Linked DNA regions of Homo sapiens: all the other regions are linked to region 2. Evidence: fine-mapped expression QTL. A gene starts in region 2. Each other region holds a variant in brackets. All regions are shown on one strand. Distances are between the middles of the regions. Region 1 has its middle 65 kb from the start of TRH-GTG1-2. Region 2 holds the start of CHD1L (chromodomain helicase DNA binding protein 1 like). Region 3 has its middle 38 kb from the start of RNVU1-8. Region 4 overlaps LINC00624 (long intergenic non-protein coding RNA 624).

Region 1 (6,175 bases), 230 kb after region 2:
GCTTTCAGCATATGGCTAGCCAGTTTTCCCAGCACCATTTGTTAAATAGGGAATCCTTTCCGCATTTCTTGTTTTTGTCAGGTTTGTCAAAGATCAGATAGTTGTAGATGTGTGGTGTTATTTCTAAGGGCTCTGTTCTGTTCCATTGGTCTGTATCTCCGTTTTGGTACCAGTACCATGCTGTTTTGTTTACTGTAGCCTTGTAGTATAGTTTAAAGTCAGGTAGTGTGATGCCTCCAGCTTTGTTCTTTTGGCTTAGGATTGACTTGGCAATGTGGGCTCTTTTTTGGTTACATATGAACTTTAAAGTAGTTTTTTCTAATTCTTTGAAGAAAGTCATTGGTAGCTTGATGGGGATGGCATTGAATCTATAAATTACCTTGGGCAGTATGGCCATTTTCACGATATTGTTTATTCCTCTCCATGAGCATGGAATGTTCTTCCATTTGTTTGTGTCCTCTTTTATTTCCTTGAACAGTGGTTTGTAGTTCTCCTTGAAGAGTTCCTTCACATCCCTTGTAAGTTGTATTCCCAGGTATTTTATTCTCTTTGAAGCAATTGTGAATGGGAGTTCACTCATGATTTGGCTCTCTGTTTGTCTGTTATTGGTGTATAAGAATGCTTGTGATTTTTGCACATTGATTTTGTATCCTGAGACTTTGGTGAAGTTGCTTATCAGCTTAAGGAGATTTTGGGCTGAGGTGATGGGGGGTTCTAGTTATACAGTCATGTCATCTGCAAACAGGGACAATTTGACTTCCTCTTTTCCTAATTGAGGAAAAGGCTCTATTTCTTTCTCCTGCCTGATTGCCCTGGCCAGGACTTCCAACACTATGTTGAATAGGAGTGGTGGGAGAGGGCATCCCTGTCTTGTGCCAGTTTTCAAAGGGAATGCTTCCAGTTTTTGCCTATTCAGTATGATATTCGCTGTGGGTTTGTCATAAATAGCTCTCAATATTTTTAGATACGTCCCATCAATACCTAATTTATTGAGAGTTTTTAGCATGAAGGGCTGTTGAATTTTGTCGAAGGCCTTTTCGGCCTCCATTGAAATACTCATGGTTTTTGTCGTTGGTTCTGTTTATATGCTGGATTACGTTTATTGATTTGTGTATGTTGAACCAGCCTTGCATCCCAGGGATGAAGCCCACTTGATCATGGTGGATAAGCTTTTTGATGTGTTGCTGGATTCGGTTTGCCAGTATTTTATTGAGGATTTTTGCATCGATGTTCATCAGGGATATTGGTCTAAAATTCTCCTTTTTTGTTTTGTCTCTGCCAGGCTTTGGTATCAGGATGATGCTGGCCTCATAAAATGAGTTAGGGAGGATTCTCTCTTTTTCTATTGATGGGAATAGTTTCAGAAGGAATGATATCAGCTCCTCCTTGTACCTCTGATTGAATTCGGCTGTGAATCCATCTGGTCCTGGACTTTTTTTGGTTGGTAAGCTATTAATTATTGCCTGAATTTCAGATCCTGTTATTGGTCTATTCAGAGATTCAACTTCTTCCTGGTTTAGTCTTGCGAGGGTTTATGTGTCAAGGAATTTATCCATTTCTTCTAGATTTTCTTGTTTATTTGCATAGAGATGTTTATAGTATTCTCTGAAGGTAGTTTGTATTTCTGTGGGATCAGTGGTGATATCCCCTTTATCATTTTTTATTGCATCTATGTGATTCTGCTCTCTTTTCTTCTTTATTAGTCTTGCTAGCGGTCTATAAATTTTGTTGATCTTTTCAAAAAACCAGCTCCTGGATTCATTGATTTTTTGAAGGGATTTTTGTGTCTCTATATCCTTCAGCTCTGCTCTGATCTTAGTTATTTCTTGCTTTCTGCTAGCTTTTGAATGTGTTTTCTCTTGCTTCTCTACTTCTTTTAATGGTGATGTTAGGGTGTCAATTTTAGATCTTTCGTGCTTTCTCTTGTGGGCATTTATTGCTATAAATTTCCCTCTACACACTACTTTAAATGTGTCCCAGAGATTCTGGTTTGTTGTGTCTTTGTTCCCGTGGGTTCCAAAGAACCTCTTTATTTCTGCCTTCATTTCATTATTTACCCAGTAGTCATTCAGGAGCAGGTTGTTCAGTTTCCATGTAGTTGAGTGGTTTTGATTGAGTTTCTTAATCCTGAGTTCTAGTTTGATTGCACTGTGGTCTGAGAGACAGTTTGTTATAATTTCTGTTCTTTTACATTTTCTGAGGAGTGCTTTTCTTCCAAGTATGTGGTCAATTTTGGAATAGGTGCAGTGTGGTGCTGAGAATAATGTATATTCTGTTGATTTGTGGTGGAGAGTTCTGTAGATGTCTATTAGGTCCACTTGGTACAGAGCTGAATTCAATTCCTGGATATCCTTGTTAACTTTCTGTCTTGTTGATCTGTCTAATGTTGACAGTGGGGTGTTAAAGTCTCCCATTATTATTGTGTGGGAGTCTAAGCCTCTTTGTAGGTCTCTAAGGATTTGCATTACGAATCTGGGTGCTCCTGTATTGGGTGCATATATATTTAGGATAGTTAGCTCTTCTTGTTGAATTGATCCCTTTACCATTATGTAGTGGCCTTCTTTGTCTCTTTTGATCTTTGTTGGTTTAAAGTCTGTTTTTTCACAGACTAGGATTGCAACCCCTGCCTTTTTTTGTTTTCCATTTGCTTGGTAGATCTTCCTCCATCCCTTTATTTTGAGCCTGTATGTTTCTCTGCATGTGAGATGGGTTTCCTGAATACAGCACACTGAAGGGTCTTGACTCTTTATCCAATATGCCAGTCTGTGTCTTTTAATTGGAGCATTTAGTCCATTTACATTTAATGTTAATATTGTTATGTGTGAATTTGATCCTGTCATTATGATGTTAGCTGGTTATTTTGTTCATTAGTTGATGCAGTTTCTTCCTAGCATCGATGGTCTTTACAATTTGGCATGTTTTTGCAGTGGCTGGTACTAGTTGTTCCTTTCCATATTTAGTGCTTCCTTCAGGAGCTCTTTTAGGGCAGGCCTGGTGGTGACAAAATTTCTCAGCATTTTCTTGTCTGTAAAGTATTTTATTTCTCCTTCACTTATGAAGCTTCATTTGGCTGGATATGAAATTCTGTGTTGAAAATTCTTTTCTTTAAGATTGTCGAATATTAGCCCCCACTCCCTCCTGGCTTGTAGAGTTTCTGCCAAGAGATCAGCTGTTAGTCTGATGGGCTTCCCTTTGTGGGTATCCCGACCTTTCTCTCTGGCTGCCCTTAACATTTTTTCCTTCATTTCAACTTTGGTGAATCTGACAATTATGTGTCTTGGAGTTGCTCTTTTCGGGGAGTATCTTTGTGGCGTTCTCTGTATTTCCTGAATTTGAATGTTGGCCTGCCTTGCTAGATTGGGGAAGTTCTCCTGGATAATATCCTGCAGAGCGTTTTCCAACTTGATTCCATTCTCTCTGTCACTTTCAGTACAGCTATCAAATGTAGATTTGGTCTTTTTACATAGTCCCATATTTATTGGAGTCTTTGTTCATTTCTTTTTA[C/T]TCTTTTTTCTCTAATCTTGTCTTCTCGCTTTATTTCATTAATTTGATCTTCAATCACTGATATTCTTTATTCTGCTTGATTGAATTGGCTATTGAATCTTGTTTATGCTTCACGAGGTTCTCATACTGTGGTTTTCAGCTCCTTCAGGTCACTTAAGCTCTTCTCTACACTGTTTATTCTAGTTAGCCATTCATCTAACCTTTTTTCAAGGTTTTCAGCTTCCTTGTGATGGGTTAGAACATGCTCCTTTAGCCCGGAGAAGTTTGTTATTACCGACCTTCTGAAGCCTGCTTCTGTCACCTCATCAAACTAATTCTCCATCCAGTTTTGTTCCCTTGCTGGTGAGGACTTGTGTTCCTTTGGAGGAGAAGAGGTGTTCTGGTTTTTGGAATTTTCAGCCTTTCTGCTCTGGTTTCTCCCCATCTTTGTGGTTTTATGTACTACTTTGGTCTTTGATGTTGGTGACCTACAGATGGGGTTTTAGTGTGGATGTCCTTTTTGTTGATGTTGATGCTATTCCTTTCTGTTTGTTAATCCTTCTAACCAGGCAGGTCCCTCAGCTGCAGGTCTGTTGGAATTTGCTGGAGGTCCACTCCAGACCCTGTTTGCCCAGCTATCACCAGCAGAGGCTGCAGAATAGCAAATATTGCTGCCTGATCCTTCCTCTGGAAGCTTTGTCCCAGAGGGGCACCCACCTGTATAAGGTGTCTGTCGGCCCCTACTGGGAGGTGTCTCCCAGTTAGGCTACATGGTGGTCAGAGACCCACTTGAGGAGGCTGCCTGTCCATTATCAGAGCTCAAATGCCATGCTGGGAGAACTACTGCTGTCTTTAGGGCTGTCAGGCAAAGACGTTTAAGTCTGCAGAAGGTGTCTGCTGCCTTTTATTCAGATATGCCCTGCCCCCAGAGGTGGAATCTAGAGGCAGTAGGCCTTGCTGAGCTGCAGTGGGCTCTACCCAGTTTGAGCTTCCCTACCACTTTATTTACACTGTGACCATAGAACCACATACTCAAGCCTCAGCAGTGGCAGAACCCCCTCCCCCTGCCATGTTCCAGTGCCACAGGTTGATCTCAGACTGCTGTGCTAGCAGCAGGCAAGGCTCCATGGGCATGGGACCTGCCGAGCCAGGCACAAGAGGGAATCTCCTGGTCTGTCGGTTGCAAAGACAGTGGAAAAAAGCACAGTATTTGGGCAGGGGTGTACTGCTCCTCGAGGTACAGTCACTCACATCTTCCCTTGGCTAGGAAAAAGAAATCCCCCAACCCCTTGCACTTCTCGGGTGAGGCAACACCCCACCCTGCTTTGGCTCATCCTCCATGGGCTGCATACACTGTCCAACGAGTCCCAGTGAGATGAACGAGGTACCTCAGTTGGAAATGCAGAAATCACCTGTCTTCTGCGTCTATCTCACTTGAAGCTGTAGACCGGAGCTGTTCCTATTCAGCCATCTTGGAAGCAACCCTCTTTTTCTTTTTGTATTTTGGTAGAGACAGGGTTTCACCATATTGCCCAGGCTGGTTTCAAACTCCTGAGGTCAAGCCATTCTATAAAACAAACTTATATTTGTTTTATCTGAGTTCCTTCCTCAGGAAAGGACTCTCAGGCCTCTCAAAAAGCATCAGAGACCTGAAACTCAGCCAATCACAGCATCCAGACAATGAGATGCCAGTCCCCTCACTCATCACGAGTGCTTCCTCACCCCTCCCTAGTTCCTCTTTTCCTACACACAGTTAACTTTTCTTCTGCGCTATATAAACCCCTAACTTTAGTCAATCAGGGAGACAGATTTAAGACTCATCTCCTGTCTACTCAGCTGCAGCACCTGATTAAAGCCTTCTTCCTCAGCAATACTCAATGTCTCAATGATTGTCTTTCTGTGTGCTGAGAACACTGAAGCCCTGGGGTTTTGGTAAAAATACATGTACACTTTTAAAAACCCCAATTAATGGGTTGTGGTATATTGAGAAATTGGAGTGGCGTCAACTTGGCCAATTCTGAGGAAACACACTGTGCTTAAGTGTCAGGGCCCTGCCTCCTGACCTCGACAGTTTATGGTTGATTTTGAGGCACAGCAGGGGAGTATGGCCTGGTTTGAGTGTTTTATAGAAATGTAAAACATGGCTGATTACTTTTTATTTTAAATCCAACAAATTCTCCATTTCTGGTGAGAAAATCTTGCCAAAACCAACCAAACAAATGCATAGAAGTATATGAAGAAGAAAATGAAAGATTCCCTGCCTCCGAATCCCACTTGCTTGGTGTCAGCCATTATTTATCACATGGAGGATGGGGGCAAGACACCCAGGAAGTCCCAAGTCCTGTTCTCACAATCATCTGGCCTCCCTGGGCAAAGGGAAAAGAGGGAAGGCAAAAAGAATATAACACTACTGTTTGCGGAAATTTCCCCTTGGTACAGGAAACTCTGGTAAACTGAGAGAGTATGTTTTCCAGAGGGAGGCCTCAAGGGCTCTTCTCTGGCCCTAAGCCCAAACTGGATTTTGCCTCATTTTCTGAGGTGCAAATGAAATGATAAAAGTTGATCAAAGGAGAGGGCAGAGAGAAAGAAAGAGGATGAATCCTCTCTCGCAGGTCCACCTTCTTTGGTGTTGCTTGAGGGATCAGAAGAAATGCCTTAACATAGGTGTGTGGGAACTATGGCTGCTAAGTAT
Region 2 (6,175 bases):
CAATAAAAAGAAACTACTGATACGTGCAACGACCTGGATGAATCTCCAGAGAATTACTCTGAGTGAAAAAAAGCCAGTCCCCAAAGGCTACATATTGTATGATTTTACTCACCTATCATTTTCAAAGTGACAAAATTATAGAAATGGAGAACAGATTAGTGGTTGCCAGGGGTTAAGGAATTGGTGAGGTAGAAGGGAGGTGAGTGTAGCTATCAAAGTGCAAGTTGAGGGATCCTTGTGGAGATGGAAAATGTTCTGGATCTTGACTGTACCAATGTCAATATCCTGTTGTGATAGTGTACCATCATTGCAAGTGTACACAATGTGATAATGTGCCACATTGCAAGATATGACCACGAGGGGAAACTGGGTAAAGGTTACATGGGATCCTTCCGTATTATTTCTTAAAACTGGTGACTCATGCCTGTAGTCCCAGCTACTCAGAAGGCTGAGGTGGGAGGATCACTGAAGCCCAGGTCGAGGCTGCAATGGGCCACTGCACTCCAGCCTGGGCAACAGAGTGAGACCTTATCTCAAAAAAAAAAAAAGTTGAATTTTCAAAAATAATATGTAATTATATCCACAAAGATAACAATACTTAACACTTAGGAGTCAACAGCAAAAACCAGAAATTACCCTTGGTAGGTTAGGCAGAAAGGAATGTAATACAGGGAATTAGATCACCACAAAATTGTCGAAAGGCCTGGAGGAGTAACATCTAGGCTGATCTTCTGGGTACAACTGCTAAATCAAGCACCACAGTATGGACACACCAAGGAAGTATCTACCTCCACGACCTGGAAGCCAGGAACCAACCAGGAGGCCACGGTACTGTCAGCCCCAGGGACCTATCAACGCAGCCACAATCCATGATAACAAAATGAATGCTCTGTACCCTCCCACAGACCCATGAGGTAGTAGCTAAGTGGGAAGCGGAAAATCCAAACCCCTCTGTGTCCTTCCCCTCACTTTCCCCTTCCAAATCTCCCAGTCACGTGCCTGGCTAAAGCCAAGTCACGTTTACAACCAAACTACAGTGGGGTCTGGGAAAGGTAGTCTTTAGCTTTTTAACCTCCAGATGTAGATTCTTTTGCCCTTCTGTCAGGGAGATGACAAGTAGTGAAAAAGCAAGCAAAACAGCAAGAAGTAATAGGTCTGCATATTCCAGAAACAAAAAGGTCCTAAGGTAACTTCATGATCCAAAGATGAATATCCAAATGTCCATCAATATTGGTAACCAAATAAACATTAAATTAAACAATACGATAGCATATTAACTTCTCAAATTAGAAAATACCAGTGTTGCTGAGAGTATAGAGAAATAAGCAAAAATTTTGCATACTCTTTATTCTAGAAATGGTACCTTTCAGGAATTAAACGTCCATACCTATAATAAATATTTGGTTACAAGGATATTTATGTTACTTACAATAGCAAAAAAAAGAACCTAAATACCAAGAAGAGGGACTGTCTAAACTATGGTACATCCATATACTGAAAAACTGTAACCATTAAGAATGATGTTGAAGAAGACTGAATGATAAGGAAAAAAAGTTATGATTTCCCAAAAAAATGTACATGAAACTCCATTTTTCACCTTCCCCCTCCACCAGAAAGTAAAAGAAATTATACAGGATAGAGAACATGTTAACAGTAAGGAGATTATGGAGATTAATATTTATTTTCTTTATGCATAGGCTATTTCCCTGAATGTTTTACTGAAAATACGTACTACTTCTGTAACCAAACGAAAAAAAAGTAGTAAGAATTTTTTTAACCAACTCATGAAGAATAGTTTCTCATAACACTAGTTTATTCTGGTAAACAGAAATAGAAATTACAAGTTATAATATTCAGTAGCCATTCCTTTGACTCTGCTTTTCTATTTTCCTTCTCCACTACCAATTTATCCAAGTTGCCACATTTGCCTACTTAATTCTGAATTTACTCACTCCATTCCATCCACTCAAACTTGCAACCTCTTGTCTCCTCATTTTCACTAAAACACTTGCCCATATGTACGTTTCTCCTGGCATATTATCCACAGCTAAGTATCAACTGGCACACTTTTCTGAGCCCTCTCTCACACAAGTTCTTAAAGAACCATTCCCAACACTTGCAAGGAAATAGGCAAACCCACAAACATAAACTTTCGTTAAGATAAAGTCAAACATAAAAAGACCAGTCTACAAGCTCATACTTAAAACTGGATACATACTCCTTACAGCCACACATTCTTACAGACTCAGGGAATCAAGGAGAGAGGTCTTTCTCTTTCATGTCAGCGTCCTCTCCATTCAACTTCATCTTTCAGTCTTCTAAGCTGAACACAGAATTGCACCTTTTGTTTCATTCCTAGAATGACAAACCTTACTCTTTCGTGGTACTGAGCACTTAAATAAATTAGTTTATACTTTTAAATGCACTCTCACTAGTCTAAAACTCTAGGTAGGAAGGGTCCCTATTTGTTTTGCTCATCTTTGTAGCCAATGCCTAAGAATACGCTCCCAGTAGCATTCAATAAGTAATGAATAAACGACTGTATTATTACTGATGCATGATTCTGTCAATACAGTCAAAGCACACACTACGTTCCCAACTTATAAGTAAGGAAAACGAGGCTGGGGCGGTTCAGCGGCGAGTCAGCGCAGACCCAGGAGGAGAGCGGGGTCTCGGAGCTGCAGGAAGTACGGTCAGCCATGCAGCGGCAGGGCTGGGGGGCATGCAAGGTTCGCGCTTTGCAGACTCTCCGTAAGGGCTAGTGTCAATAAATCGAGTTACGTGCGGTGGTGAGCGGACAAGCTAAGTTGGCATATAGTACGTGGTTCAGTCAGTATTTATGAATGACTCAAGACACAAAAATAGCTTCATAAACAGTGCTTTGCTTGAGTTTGTCCGCTCACTACCGCACGTAACTCGATCCGGAGAATTAATCCGTGGCGAATTCTCCAATAACTGCGCGCGCACAGTAAACGGAGAAGCTGAAGCTGGGAGATGAGTTGATCGTTTTACAGAAGCAACCAATAAACTCCCCAGGCCGGGACCCAAACCCACCGGAACAGCAACTGGAAACCTACATCCTTGGTGCACCAGGCCGTCCAACTCTTCAGCGGAGGCCTGCAGGTGGCGCTGATCTCACCACGTTTCCCCTCCACAGGCCAGGGGCCAGGCCTGGCTACCGGGCCCGCGACCTCATTCATCTGGCGTCCGCCGGCCCCGCGCGCCGCGCAGGCGGGGGCCGTGGCCACCAAGCCCGGGCGCAGTTTCTCTCCGCCCACGGCAGGAGCGAAGGAAGGCCCTGGCGCGAGCGGGTAAACTGCCCACCGGGCGGCCCACCCGCTGCGCCCCCGGCCCGCAAGAGGCAGTCCCAATAGGTTGGCCCGCCTGGCCGAAGTCCGCCCGGAGCCCGCTCACCTGTCAGCCCCCACTGCCGTAAGTCCTGCTCCTGCACCCGCGCCGCCTCGGCTCGGCCCTCAGTATGAAGCCGCAGTAAGAAGCCAGGGGCTTGGCCCCCGCGGCTAGTAGCGCCCGCGCGCTCCATCGGGCCGGTAGAGGCCCCGCCCCGCGCGGCCAAGCGCGCACCTCCCTCCCAACTTCCCAACGCGCGGGGGCGCGCGACTGCGCGCTGGGGCCCACCTACGAGCGAGGCGCCGCCAGAGGGCGCGTCCTGCCAAGATATCCGGAGCGGAGCTGGTGCAGTCACCCTTCCGGACAGGCAGTTCTTGCAGTGCGGAGCGTGGAAGGGCTGCCCAGTTCTCACCAGTCGTGCTTCTGAAGCGCTAGGCGTCTGATCACGCACAGGACGTCTGATTGCCTGAACTGCCCGTCAAGGAGGTGGCATGTGTTCATCATTCATTTATTATTTAATCAACATCGACTATCATGTGTCAGACACTCCGCTGGGCCCTGGGGGTTCTAGAAGTAAGACTTGTTCCGTGCCCTCCAGTGATTCACGATAAGATCAAACTGTTCTTGTTCGGTTTACCTAGTGATAAATTGATTTAGTCCCTGAAATCCCTTTCTTACTGCCTGTGACCTGTAGGCCAAAATTGGGAACCTCTGAATAGTAGTAAATTAAAATCACCAAAGACGTCATTGTGGCAGTGGGTATCTCAAGTGCATTATGGGGAGCAGATTGAGGCAATGTGTTCAGTTAGGGGTCACCGTGACTCAGCATCAGCTTTGAGTGGATTTATGATGTAGTATACCACTAATATAAATATGATAATAACAAAATAGCTGCATTTATTGATGAAGTTCTGGGTGGTGTCCTAAGGGCTTTAAGTATATTTTCTTATTTAACCTTCACAATAACCAATAATTAGGTGTTATAATTGTCCCCACATTGTAAATGAAGATATTGGGACTTGTAATGGTAATTGGCAGTACTGGAACAGGAACGATATTATTCTCTGGCTAATGTCATTAGAATAGTATTCTCATTTAGGTTAATCTTGGTGCTTCCTTCTTCAGTAAACTCATGTTAAATTTGTACCCTCCATTCTCATCTTCCTCTAAAATAAAAGGGAGAAATTTGTTCTGAGCTAGAAAAGGGATGACTTCAGATTGGTTTATTCATAAAAACTCAAGCAAAGCACTGTTTTATGAAGCTATTTTTGTGTCTTGAGTCATTCATAAATACTGACTTTCATGCGCGTCCGTGTGAAGAGACCACCAAACAGGCTTTGTGTGAGCAATAAAGCTGTTTATTTCACCTGGGTGCAGGTGGGCTGAGTCCGAAAAGAGTCAGCGAAGGGAGATAGGGGTGGGGTCGTTTTATAAGATTTGGGTAGGTAAAGGAAAATTACAGTCAAAGGGGGTTTGTTCTGTGGCGGGCAGGAGTGAGAGGTCACAAGGTGCTCGGTAGGGGAGCTTTTTGAGCCAGGATGAACCAGGAAAAGGACTTTCACAAGGTAATGTCATTACTTAAGGCAAAGACGGGCCATTTAAACTTCTTTTGTGGTGGAATGTCATCAGTTAAGGCAGGAACCAGCCATCTGGATGTGTACGTGCAGGTCACAGGGGATATGATGGCTTAGCTTGGGCTCAGAGGCCTGACACTGACTGAATTACATACTATGTGCCAAGCACTCTATGGTACTGAAGATAGAGGCCACTTATCTCCTGGATCTTACATTTTAAAAGGAGGAGACAAGCAATAAATAAAAATCAGGTAGTGAAGGGGTGGCCTGCCCCTCCACACTTGTGGGTATTTCTCGTCGGGTGGAATGAGAGACTTAAGAAAAAAAAGAGACACAGAGACAAAGTATAGAGAAAGAAAAGTGGGCCCAGGGAACCGGCGCTCAGCATACAGAGGACCTGCGCTGGCACCAGCCTCAGTTCCCTTAGTATTTATTGATCATTATCGGGCATTTCTCAGAGAGTGGGATGTGGCAGGACAATAGGGTAATAGTGGAGAGACGGTCAGCATGAAAACATGTGAACAAATGTCTCTGCATCATAAACAAGGTAAAGAAAAAAGTCCTGTGCTTTTGATGTGCATACACATAAACATCTCAATGCCTTAAAGAGCAGTATTGCTGCCCACATGTCCCACCTCCAGGCCTAAGGTGGTTTTCTCCTATCTCAGTCAATGGAATATACAATCGGGTTTTACACCGAGACATTCCATTGCCCAGGGATGAGCAGGAGACAGATGCCTTCCTCTTATCTCAACTGCAAAGAGGCCTTCCTTTCTCTTTTACTAATCCTCCTCAGCACAGACCCTTTATGGGTGTCAGGCTGGGGGACGGTCAGGTCTTTCCCTTCCCACAAGGCCATATTTCAGGCTATCACATGGGGAGAAACCTTGGACAATAACTGGCTTTCCTAGGCAGAGGTCCCTGCGGCCTTCCGCAGTGTATTGTGTCTCTGGGTACTTGAGATTAGGGAGTGGACTCTTAACAAGCATGCTGCCTTCAAGCATTTGTTTAACAAAGCACATCCTGCACAGCCCTGAATCCATTTAACCTTGAGTGGACACAGCCCATGTTTCAGGGAGCACAGGGTTGGGGGTAGGGTTACAGATTAACAGCATCTCAAGGCAGAAGAATTTTTCTTAGAACAGACCAAAATGGAGTCTCTTATTTCTACTTCTTTCTACACAGACACAGTAGCAGTCTGAGCTCTCTTTCTTTTCCCCACAAGGTAGGATTAATGCTAAGACAAAAGTAAA
Region 3 (6,175 bases), 120 kb after region 2:
AACGGGATCTAATTAAACTAAAGAGCTTCTGCACAGCAAAAGAAACTACCATCAGAGTGAACAGAAAACCTACAAAATGGGAGAAAATTTTTGCAACCTACTCATCTGACAAAGGGCTAATATCCAGAATCTACAATGAACTCAAACAAATTTACAAGAAAAAAACAAACAACCCCATCAAAAAGTGGGCAAAGGACATGAACAGACACTTCTCAAAAGAAGACATTTATGCAGCCAAAAGACACATGAAAAAATGCTCACCATCACTGGCCATCAGAGAAATGCAAATCAAAACTGCAATGAGATATCATCTCACACCATTTAGAATTGCAATCATTAAAAAGGAAACAACAGGTGCTGGAGAGGATGTGGAAAAATAGGAACACTTTTACACTGTTGGTGGGACTGTAAACTAGTTCAACCATTGTGGAAGTCAGTGTGGCGATTCCTCAGGGATCTAGAACTAGAAATACCATTTGACCCAGCCATCCCATTACTGGGTATATACCCAAAGGATTATAAATCATGCTTCTATAAAGACACATGCACACATATGTTTATTGCGGCACTATTCACCATAGAAAAGACTTGGAACCAACCCAAATGTCCAACAATGATAGACTGGATTAAGAAAATGTGGCACATATACACCATGGAATACTATGCAGCCATAAAAAATGATGAGTTCATGTCCTTTGTAGGGACATGGATGAAATTGGAAATCATCATTCTCAGTAAAGTATTGCAAGGACAAAAAACCAAACACTGCATATTCTCACTCATAGGTGGGAATTGAACAATGAGAACACATGGACACAGGAAGGGGAACATCACACTCTGGGGACTGTTGTGGGGTGGGGGGAGGGGAGAGGGATAGCATTATGAGATATACCTAATGCTAAATGATGAGTTAACGGGTGCAGCACACCAGCGTGGCACATGTATACATACATAACTAACCTACACATTGTGCACATGTACCCTAAAACTTAAAGTATAATAATAATAAAAAAAAGAAAAAAAGGAAAATATAACCTGTTGGGAAACTGTTTCTGCCTTGTACACACAAGAAGCGAACAATGAGGATATGCTTAGTTGTATTGGGAAAGAGATGGATCTGTGGCATTGTCACAAAAGTACACAAATACTGAGAATGACTGCTGAACGAATGGTCCCCCTCAATGGTGACCCTCAGGTAAGACCAGGAGGTGTTGTATTTCAGCAAACCCTGGGCAATTGTAATGCAGGGTTCCTAAGATTCCATGACACTCCCACCTTCTAATTTTGTTATTGCAACTGCAGGCCATTACCTGGCACGCTGGCCACTAGCTGCCTCACTCTTATCAGAGCCTGAGCTACAGGCAGTGACTTTGGCTCAGATATCTGGCATCTCAAACTCTGTTTTTGTGGTTAAGGACTCTAAAGTGCTGTGGGGAGTGATCAAGTTTTTCTCAGCGGTAACAATTCCAGTTACTGTCATCCCTCAGTCCTGATTAAACCTATTTGATTTCACTAGTCTTCAACCCATTATGTGTTTGGGTTTCTTCTCCTTAGTCCCTGGCTCAACCTCTTCTGGCATAAATGTCAGCATGGCTGTATCTGCCAGCCTTTTGTTGAGTGAGAGGGCAGAGATGAACATCCTAGAAATCAACCAAGAATTGCGCTCGCAGCTGGCATAGAGCAAACAGCAGTTCTGAGACCTCAAAGAGAAATTTCTTATAACTCAAACTATTGCCTACTCCCTGGCCAACCAGCTGAAGAAGTACAGTAAATTCTATAGGCTCACTATACCAAAAATGATGAATGATCGCCCATCTTCTCCCTGAGAGATGAAATGCTCTCTTAATCAAAATTAATTTTATCCTTTCCATGCTTCTAGGAAAACAGAAGAGGATATTTTAACCTCATTTTTTAAAAGATGGAAAACAGAGGCACAAAGTATTCAGCAACTTTTCCATGTTTGCAATTTGGTGTGGGGTGGGACTAGAGTTAAAATACCAGTTATTGATTTCTGACATAGGAACAGAACCACCTGTTTTTCTCAGCAAGAGGCTAAATCATGTTTACAAGAATTCTCTCTGTACCATATAAGATCCTGCAGACAAGTAGCATCTAATCTGTGGCTCTACATATCTGGGACTAATGAATTTCCATTCAGTTCAGGCTGTTGAGGCCTGATAGGCAAAGTTCCATGCTGAGGACCCTGGTGGAAACGTGGTGATAGCACACAGTACCAACTCCAAGGAGCTTAAAGAGGAGTCTGCACCTAATAGAAATTGTGGTATCCATAAGTGACAGCATCAAGAGCAGGGAATACCCTGGTGACAGGGAAGTCTTGCTTCCTGGGGCACAGGTTGTTATTTCTCTCTCTTTTTTTTTTTGAGACAGAGTTTCACTCTTTCTTGTTGCCCAGGCTGGAGTGCAATGGCCCGATCTCGACTCACCACAACCTCTGCCTCCTGGGTTCAAGTGATTCTCCTGCCTCAGCCTCCCAAGTAGCTGAGATTACAGGCATGCACCACCACACCCAGCTAATTTTTGTATTTTTAATAGAAATGGGGTTTCTCCATGTTGGTCAGGCTGGTCTCGGACTTCTGACCTCAGGTGATCCGCCCGCCTCGGCCTCTCAAAGTGCTGGGATTACAGGCATGAGCCACCACACCTGGCTGAGGCTCTTATTTCTAAAGAGGAAAAAAGAGAGCCCCCAAGACTGTGTGGAGGTAGCAGTGTGTAAAGCAGGGACCCTGGGCTAGTTTCCTGGGCTCCATCCAAGTTGCTCATCTTCTCTGTGCCTTAGTTTCCTCATCTGTTCATGGGTATTATAATAATACCTACCTTGGTAAATTGCTACAATGAATTATACAACCTATTGCTTGTAAACCTCCTGGAACAGTTGTTGGCACAGAGTAAACACTATTAGTTCTTCATTCTACGGTTTCTAACTTAACAGGAACTTGATTAGTATTTGGGCATATTTCCTTCATGACCTTATGGTCTTATGCCTCATATTTTATGCAATTATATCCAGATATGATTTTTAAAATCTTGCACATATTGGTGCTTAAAATTCCCAGTTAAAAAAGAAATCAGTCCTGTGAACACACAAAATCTGTGACAGGTCTCAGTTAATTTAGAAAGTTTATTTTGCCAAGGTTGAGGACGCACGTGGGACACAGCCTCAGGAAGTCCTGACGACATGTGCCCAAGGTGGTCATGAGACATCAATTAATATATGTAAGAAGTGCATTTGTTCAGTCTGGAAAGGCGGGACAACTTGAAGCAAAGGCAGGAAGATCCAAATTATATGATTTCTGAGTACTCTAAGTGTAAGCAGAAATTAACACCAGCTGGTTGTTAAATGCTTATTTTAGTCGTTTAAAAGGAATTTGCAAGATACAATCCCAAACTAGTTTCTTAACTAGTGATTGGTCTCAGTCTGTAGACTGCTCTCTACCATCCTAGAAGAAGAGAAAACAACTCATCTTCCCTGTTGGAAGAAGCAAGCTCAAACTTCATAAAGGAGTTACCT[G/C]CATTCCATTGTCATGGAAGCAGGAAAATTTGCCTTCCTGTTGAAAGCAAGTAAAACTCCAAAAAAAGAAGAGTTGTACAGTAAAATAAACTTAAGATCTCAACCAAATTTGGGGAGATCAGGGATTCTCTGGAGGGGGTGCTGTCAGATCTCAGCAAATTATCCTATTGGCTTGAGCCATAAAGTTAGCTCATGCTGGTACCAAGCACTGACAGGAGATTTGTCAAAGGTCAGGGGCATCTCCACTCAGAATCCCCCCGTGGTGGTTACCAAAATGTGAACCCAACAAATCTGAGACAGGTCTCAGTTGATTTAGAAGGTTTATTTTGCCAAGGTTGAGGACGCACAAGGACACAGCCTCAGGAGGTCCTGACGACATGTACCCAAGGTGGTTGGGGCACGGCTTAGTTTTATACATTTAGGGAGACATGAGACATCAACCAATATATGTAAGAAGTAAATTGGTTCAGTCTGGAAAGACAGGAAATCTTGAAGGAAAGGCAGGAAAACTCAAAGTGGAGAGGGAGCTTCCATGGGAGGGAGCTTCCAGGTCACAGATGGGTGACACACAAATGGTTACATTATTTTGAGTATCTGATTAGCCTTTCCAAAGTAGTCAAATCAGATATACATCTATCTCAGTGAGCAGAGGAGTGATTGAATAGAATGGGAGGCAGGTTTGCCTTAAGCAGTTCCCAGCTTGAGTTTTCCTTAGTGATTTTGGAGGCCCAAGATATTTTCCTTTCACAGTCCCATAGTCCTAGAAGCCTTCCCAGCTGTACAGAAAATCACTACTTTATGCCCCAGTGCAGGAGAGGCTGCAAGGCTTGGGAAAGTGTCCCATGATTCAGAGTCAGACCTCAGGGGCTGTGAATTCTGACCCTACCTCATTCCAGGTGAATCATCTTGTCAAGTTGCTTGGTGGGCCCCTGAGCTTTTTTCCTATCTCTAAGTTGGGGAGTATCAGATGCCAGGAAGTGAGGAGACTGAAGAGTAAAGATGTGCAATCCCTGCCTAGAGCCTGGTACTGGGGACAGTTTTGTCCTTGGGATGGACCTGGCTCCTGCCCTGTAGGCAGTGACTGCAACAGCATGTCCAGCCTTCCACTGAGGCAGGTGTGTCTGTCTTTTCTCAGAGTGTGAAGAGTGCAAAGACCTCATAAAATCTAGGCTGAGGGATGAGCTGCAGTTCAAGGAGGAGAAGCTGGCAGAGAAGCTCAGGCAAGCTGGAAAGCTCAGGTGAGGGGGCCCCATTGGGGGCAGGCAGGTGGGCAGGAGTGTGAATCTCTGTGCAGCAGCTCAGCGGGGGAGAAGTAAGAGCTAAGCCGAGCCAGGGGAAGGGCAGGAATTGCCATGGCAGACACATGTCACACAAATATTTATAAAACAGAGAACAATAATAGTAATTTATGGGTTGCAGTTATTTCTCAGAGCCTCGTTTTCTCTTTTTCTAACAAGTAATTGTTGAGGTGAAATTTGCATAACACAAAATTAACCAAAGGAAAGTGAACTACCCAGCAGCATTCAGTATACTCAAGATGCTGTGCGATCACCACTGCATTTACTCTTAGTCAGAATCAACTCCTAACTGACTTGGGCTTCTCATTTCTTCAACCACTATTGCCTTCTTGACACTGTCATTCTTTTATTCTTTCATGTTTCCAGTTGTACCTGGCCACATTTCTGTGCACGGCTTTGTGTCCAGTCACTGAATAATGCACGATGTGTATTTGAACATGAAAATGTCCACAGGCAAAATGAGAAATTGAAGGAAAATCCTTTTGGAACTGATTTGGTTACAGAAGAAAAAGATGAATGGAATGTTGAAAAATCTTCCTGGAGCTCTCTCTCTCTATCGCAGTGGGGAAGACCTGTTTTTTTAAAAAAATACATTTTTCTTTCTCTTTGCAACAGGCATTTCCTTTAATATGTGCTGACTTTCTGCGTGGAGGGCTCCTTTGTTTCGATATTAGAACTGATCACTCATCTCTTTCCACTACTAAATTTTCTCTACTATCCCACCTTAGGCAATATAAAGTCTCTGTTCACTCCCAGGCCCGAGAGCCGGCCCAGTTACAGGACAAGTTACGGGAAGGGAGAGATGCCTTCCTCTTACTGAATCAGCATCTCAAGGCCCTCCTCACTCCTGATGATTCTGACAACTCCCAGGGGCAGGACCTCTGAGAGCAGGCTGGCTGAGCACCTTGTCCACAAGCTCAGCCCAGATAAGGAGACCACAGGCCCTGATGACACAAAACCCCAGGCTTGTGAGAGACTCTACACCTCCATACCTCCACAATGACAGTTACATAGGTGGTGTTTCTTTCCATTAAACATATGTGGCCATGACATGACCAGGATTTCCTGGGTAGGAACAGAGACAAGAAGTCCATGGGGTTAGAGGTCACAGTATTGCAAATGTCTCCTCCTCCTTGATAGTCACGTTCTTTGGAGCAAGAGGCCATATCCATTCAGTTTTAAAGGATAGGAAGGAGGCTGTGACAGGAGGCAACTTGTTAGAGTAAAAAGAGTCCTGGATTAAGAATGAAGTTTCCCAGGCTGTATCTTCAGCAATGTCCTTAGTAACCTTGGGTGAGTGATTGATTTATCCTTTCTGGATTTCTTTGTCTAAATCTCTACAGGGGTC
Region 4 (6,175 bases), 200 kb before region 2:
GTGGCCCCTGATTTCTGGTCCTGCCATTGCTCATAACCTGGTGATGGCACTGCTTGCTGTGGAGTTCTGAAGGGGAAAAAGGCAGAGCCATCAAATAGCTCTGTAGGGCCTAGATATGGAGAAGGTATAAGTCTGAAAACTTTGCAGTATTTTCCTGCACCGAATTAAGATAAAAACATTAGACAGTGTTAAGAGTTAAGTCACTAAAGCTCAAAAATCCCATAGCAACGGGTTTTCCCATGTGTGAAGAAGTAGCACAGAAATGGAGGTTCTTAAAACCCTTAGGGTCATTATCCTTCAGGGAAATGTAAATCAAAATCGTATTTGATGTAGTGCTTCATACATACCAGGATGGTTATAATAAAAGGCAGACATAACAATAAGTATTGGTGAGGATTTAGAGAAATTAGAAACCCCATCCACTGTTTTTAGTAATGTAAAACAGTGCCACTGCTTTGAAAACTGTCTGGAAGTTCTTTAAAAAGTTAAACATAGATTTACCATATGATCCAACACTTCTTTTCCTAGCTGTACACCCAGGATATATAAAAATATTTGTCTACCAAAAATTCGTACATAAATTTTTATAGGAGCATTATTCATAAAAAGTTAAAATAACCAAAATGTCTATCGAGTGATAAATGGGTTAATAAAATCTGGTATATCTATATGATGGAAATTATTTAGCAGTAGGAAGGAATGAAGTACTGATACATGCTGTCATGTTGATGAAACTTGAAAACATTATATCAAGTGAGAGACGCTAGACATACCCGGCACATATTATATGATTTCCTTTATATGAAACATCCAGAATAGCAATATCCAAAAACACAGAAACAGATTAGTGGTTGTTTAGAGCTACAAAATTGGGGGCAAATAGGGAGTGACTGCTATTTTTTGGGACTGGATAATTAAAATGGGATGACACAGAGAAAGTGGCTGATTGGGTTGGGTTTACACAGAATGAATGTGGCTGTCAGTGCTGTGTGTGTCCCAGAATTGACCAGCCCACACATCCAAAACCCAGTCACCAAACAGAACTTTTCACTCATTAGGAGCTTATATTGAAGAGGGTGGCAAATGGCCACACAGTGGTCATAAGCCATGGCAGCCAGCAAGACACCCTCAGTGCTGGCTCATGATGCAAGGAAAAAGATCTGGGAAAGGCAGCCTTCGTAGGAGATGATCTTCTTCTCCTGGAAGAAGTTCACCAGCATGACCAGGATGATGGTAGACATGTAGCAGATATCCAGGAAGCTCAGGTTACTGAGGAGATAATACAGTGGAATGTGGAGGGCTAAATCTGGTGGCCACCATTATGAGCATATTCTCCCAGAGTGTCAGGTAAATGACCAGAAAGACCAGGAAGAACAAACCTTGTAGGTTGGAGTGGTTGGAAAATACCCAAAAGATGAATTTGGTGACATATGTTTGATTGCTTATTTCAAGTGGTGTCACAGCTACAAAACAAAGAAGAAAGAAACCATACAGAGCCTTGCTCTGTCGCCAGGCTGGAGTGCAGTGGCACAATCTCGGCTCACTGCAACCTCCGCCTCCCAGGTTCAAGCAATTCTCCTGCATCAGCCTCCCGAGTAGCTGGGACTACAGGCGCGTGCCACCATGCCTGGCTAATTTTTGTATTTTTAGTAGAGATGAGGCTTCACCATTTTGGCCAGGATGGTCTCGATCTCCTGACCTTGTGATCTGCCTGCCTTGGCCTCCCAAAGTGCTGGGATTACAGGCATGAGCCACTGTGCCTGGCAAGTAATAAAACAAATTTTATTACAAAAATTTAAGAACATGCAGAAAGCTATAAATAATTCAGTCATCTGCAGAATCAGTCAATACTACCTTTCAGTGTATTTCATTGTAGTTTTTTTTGTTTTACGTAAATCTTGATCTCTATAGCTTTAAAATATTAACAATTTTTCCAGATTGGAAAAGAAGAACTAAAACTACCTCTATACAAGTATGGCATGATCATATATAGAGAAAATATCAAATAATCTTCTGGAAAACTACTAGCCCTAATAAGCAAATTCAGCAAAGTTGCTCACACAACAATCAGTTGTGTGTTTGTATACTAGCAATAGCAATTCAAAAAAGAAATTAAGACACCAATTCTACTTACAGTACACAAAAGAATTAGGTAGTTAGAATAAATCTTACGAAGGAGGTGAAGAACTTGTACTCTGAAAACTACGAAACATTGTTGAAATAAATTAAAGAAAAACCTAAATAAATGGAAATATGTCTTAAGTTCATTGATAGAAAGACTTAACTTTGTTATCACTACTACCCAAAGTGATCTACAGATTCAATGAAATCCATATCATATTCCAGCAGCCATTTTCATAGAAATGTAAAAGCCCCTCCTCAAATTTGTATGGAATTGCAAGGGGCCCTGGATAGCCAAAATAACCTTGAAAAGGAAGAATAAAGTTAGAGGACTCATACTTCCTGGCTTTGAAACTTACAATAACGATACACTAAACTGAAACAGTATGGTACTGTAATAAGAACAGTCATAGACTGATGGGATAGACCAGAGAGCTCAGAAATCAACCTCCACATATATGGTTAATTGATTTTCTTATTTATTTATTTATTTATTATACTTTAAGTTGTAGGGTACATGTGCACAACATGCAGGTTTGTTACATATGTATACATTTGCCATGTTGGTGCGCTGCACCCATCAACTCACCATTTACATTAGGTATATCTCCTAATGCTATCCCTCCCTCCTTCCCCTACCTCACAACAGGCCCCAGAGTGTGATGTTCCCCTTCCTGTGTCCAAGTGTTCTCATTGTTCCATTCCCACCTATGAGTGAGAACGTGGTGTTTGGTTTTTTGTCCTTGTGATAATTTGCTGAGAATGATAGTTTCCAGCTTCATCCATGTCCCTACAAAGGACATGAACTCATCATTTTTTATGGCTGCATAGTATTCCATGGTGTATATATGCCACATTTTCTTAATCCAGTCTATCATTGATGAACATTTGGGTTGGTTCCAAGTCTTTGCTATTGTGAATAGTGCTGCAATAAATGTACATGTGTCTTTAGAGCAGCATGATTTATAATCCTTTGGGTATATACCCAGTAATGGGATGTCTGGGTCCAGTGGTATTTCTAGTTCTAGATCCTTGAGGAATCACCGCACTGACTTCCACAATGGTTGAACTAGTTTACAGTCCCACCAACAGTGTAAAAGTGTTCCTATTTCTCCACATCCTCTCCAGCACCTGTTCTTTCCTGACTTTTTAATGATCGCCATTCTAACTGGTGTGAGATGGTATCTCATTGTGGTTTTGATTTGCATTTCTCTGATGGCCAGTGATGATGAGCATTTTTTCATGTGTCTGTTGGCTGCATAAATGTCTTGAGAAGTGTCTGTTCATATCCTTCGTCCACTTGTTGATGGGGTTGTTTTTTTCTTGTAAATTTGTTTGAGTTC[T/A]TTGTAGATTCTGGATATTAGCCCTTTGTCAGATGAGTAGCTTGCAAAAATTTTCTCCCATTTTTTAGGTTGCCTGTTCACACTGATGGTAGTTTCTTTTGCTGTGCAGAAGCTCTTTAGTTTAATTAGATCTCATTTGTCAATTTTGGCTTTTGTTGCCATTGCTTTTGGTGTTTTAGACATGAAGTCCTTGCCCATGCCTATGTCCTGAATGGTATTGCCTAGGTTTTCTTCTAGGATTTTTATAGTTTTAGGTCTAACATTTAAGTCTTTAATCCATTGTGAATTGAGTTTTGTATAAGGTGTAAGGAAGGGATCCAGTTTCAGCTTTCTACATATGGCTAGCCAGTTTTCCCAGCACCATTTATTGAGTAGGGAATCCTTTCTCCATTTCTTGTTTTTGTCAGGTTTTCAAAGATCAGATGGTTTTAAATGTGTGGTATTATTTCTGAGTGCTCTGTTCTGTTCCATTGGTCTGTATCTCTGTTTTGGTACCAGTACCATGCTGTTTTGGTTACTGTAGCCTTGTAGTATAGTTTGAAGTCAGGTAGCGTGATGCCTCCAGCTTTGTTCTTTTGGCTTAGGATTGACTTGGCAATGTGGGCTCTTTTTTGGTTCCATATAAACTTTAAAATAGTTTTTTCCAATTCTGTGAAGAAAGTCATTGGTAGCTTGATGGGGATGGCATTGAATTTATAAATTACCTTGGGCAGTATGGCCATTTTCACGATATTGATTCTTCCTATCCAGGAGCATGGAATGTTCTTCCGTTTGTTTGTGTCCTCTTTTATTTCGTTGAGCAGTGGTTTGTAGTTATCCTTGAAGAGGTCCTTCACATCCCTTGGTTAATTGATTTTAAACATGCATGTCAAGTCTATTCAATGGGGAAAGAACAGTTTTTCCAGAAAATGGTCCTAAGAAAACTATATATCCACATGCAAGAGAATGAAGTGGGGCCCTTAACTTACACTATATACAAAATTAACTCAAAATTGATCAAAGACCTAAATATAAGAGCTAAAACTGTCAAAGTCTCAGAAAAAAATTGGGGACAATCTTCATGTCATTGGATTTGAATTTGGATTATTATTTCATAGAAATAACACCAAAAGTACAGACAACAAAAGAAAAAGTAGGTAACATTTACTTCGTTGAAATTAAGAAAGTGTCATCCAAAGGATGCCATCAATAAAGTGAAAAGACAATCTGTAGAATGGAAGAAAATATCTGCAAATCAGAAATCTAGTAATGCATTAATATTCATAATATAAAGAACTCCTACAACTCAACAACAGTAATAAAAACCAACCAATTCAAATGTGGACACTGGACATAGACATTTCTCCTGAGAAGATATACAAATAAGGGCCTGAAAAGATGCTCAACACCATTAGTCATTAGGAAAATGCAAGTCAACACTACAATGAGATACTAGTTTTTATTTACTAAAATGGCTATAATAAAGAAAATGGAAAATAACAAATGTTGGCAACAATGTGGAGAAATTTTAACCCTCGTGAATTGCTGATGTTAATATAAGATGGTGCAGCTGCTTTAGAAAACATTTTGACAGTTCCTCAAAAAGTTAAACATAGAACTACCATATGATCCAGCAATTCTACTCCTAGGAATACATCTGAAAGAATTGAAAGCAGGTACTCAAACAGATGTTTGTACATCCCAGTTCATAGCATCCTTGTTCACAATTGCCAGAAATAACCCCAGTGTCCATCAGCAGATATAAAATGTGTATACATACAACGAATTGTTATTTAGCCATAAAAAGGAATGAAATTTTGATATATACTACAACGTGGATAGACCTTGAAGATATTATGCTAAGTAAAATAAGCCAGATATAGAAAGATAAATATTGTATTTGTACTCCACTTACATGAAATACCTGGAACACGCAAATTAATGGAGACGGAAAATAGAATAGAGGTTACCAGGGGCTTGAAGGTGAGTTGAAATGGGGAGTTACCGTTTAATAGGTACAGAGTTTATGTTGAGGACGATGAAAGAGTTTTGGTTATAGATAACAGTGATGGTTATACAATATTGTGAATGTATTTCATGCCATAAAATTGTACACTTATAAATGGTCAACTAATAAACATATGTATTTTACCACAATTAAAAATAAATGACAAAAAGTTATGAGCTTCATTTCTTAGGGATGCATTGTATTTCATTATATGAAATAAACTTCATATCTCCTTTTTGGTTAAACATTCAGGTTGTCTCCATTCCCTATGAATGCTGTAATTTCGCACATAAATGTGAGCATCTCTGATTATCTCTTCAGAATAAAAATTTAAGACTCTGTTTTGAAATATACTAATTTTTAAAAATCACTTGGGTCATTTATCTTTTCAGAGTTTAAAAGGTATAACAATTTTAAACATATGTACTTAGATATGTTACCTTATTAAATTGTATTAATCCAAGATTTATCCTCAGCCCAACATTACATATTTCTTGAAAAAAATTGATAGAATTACCCACTTTCTATTAAGCTATCCATTCTAATAAGCTCACAACCATTTTTATGAACTGTAATTTTCTCATCTTTTTCAATCTTAGAGAGGAGGTGATATGTTGGAAAGAGTGGGCTCTTGAATCAGATAGATGGGGATTTTTAAATCCTACTTCTACTGCTTACTAGGTGTAGATGGTGGATAAGTTAGCTGACTTCCTGGTTCTTCAGT

Evidence for each region. PIP is the estimated chance that this variant, and not a neighbour inherited with it, causes the effect.
Region 1: its variant is the best candidate, but not a certain one, in a credible set for the expression of CHD1L in whole blood (TOPMed, PIP 0.54).
Region 3: its variant is the best candidate, but not a certain one, in a credible set for the expression of CHD1L in whole blood (INTERVAL, PIP 0.59).
Region 4: its variant is the best candidate, but not a certain one, in a credible set for the expression of CHD1L in whole blood (TOPMed, PIP 0.89).

The regions. Positions count from the first base shown.
Region 1 is chr1:147,005,307-147,011,481 of GRCh38, reverse strand. No RefSeq gene overlaps it. Among named protein-coding and RNA genes, the nearest start is that of TRH-GTG1-2, 65 kb to the left of the region's middle. The variant C/T (reference allele first, on the strand shown) is at 3,505.
Region 2 is chr1:147,240,070-147,246,244 of GRCh38, reverse strand. It overlaps CHD1L (chromodomain helicase DNA binding protein 1 like), which reads right to left and starts at 3,561. Exons shown (of 23, transcript NM_004284.6): 1 at 3,415-3,561. The coding sequence starts at 3,541. RefSeq lists a silencer at 3,110-3,729.
Region 3 is chr1:147,119,665-147,125,839 of GRCh38, reverse strand. No RefSeq gene overlaps it. Among named protein-coding and RNA genes, the nearest start is that of RNVU1-8, 38 kb to the right of the region's middle. The variant G/C (reference allele first, on the strand shown) is at 3,530.
Region 4 is chr1:147,440,855-147,447,029 of GRCh38, reverse strand. The region is part of intron 3 of LINC00624 (long intergenic non-protein coding RNA 624); the gene reads left to right. It also overlaps the pseudogene OR13Z2P. Among named protein-coding and RNA genes, the nearest start is that of LINC00624, 74 kb to the left of the region's middle. The variant T/A (reference allele first, on the strand shown) is at 3,465.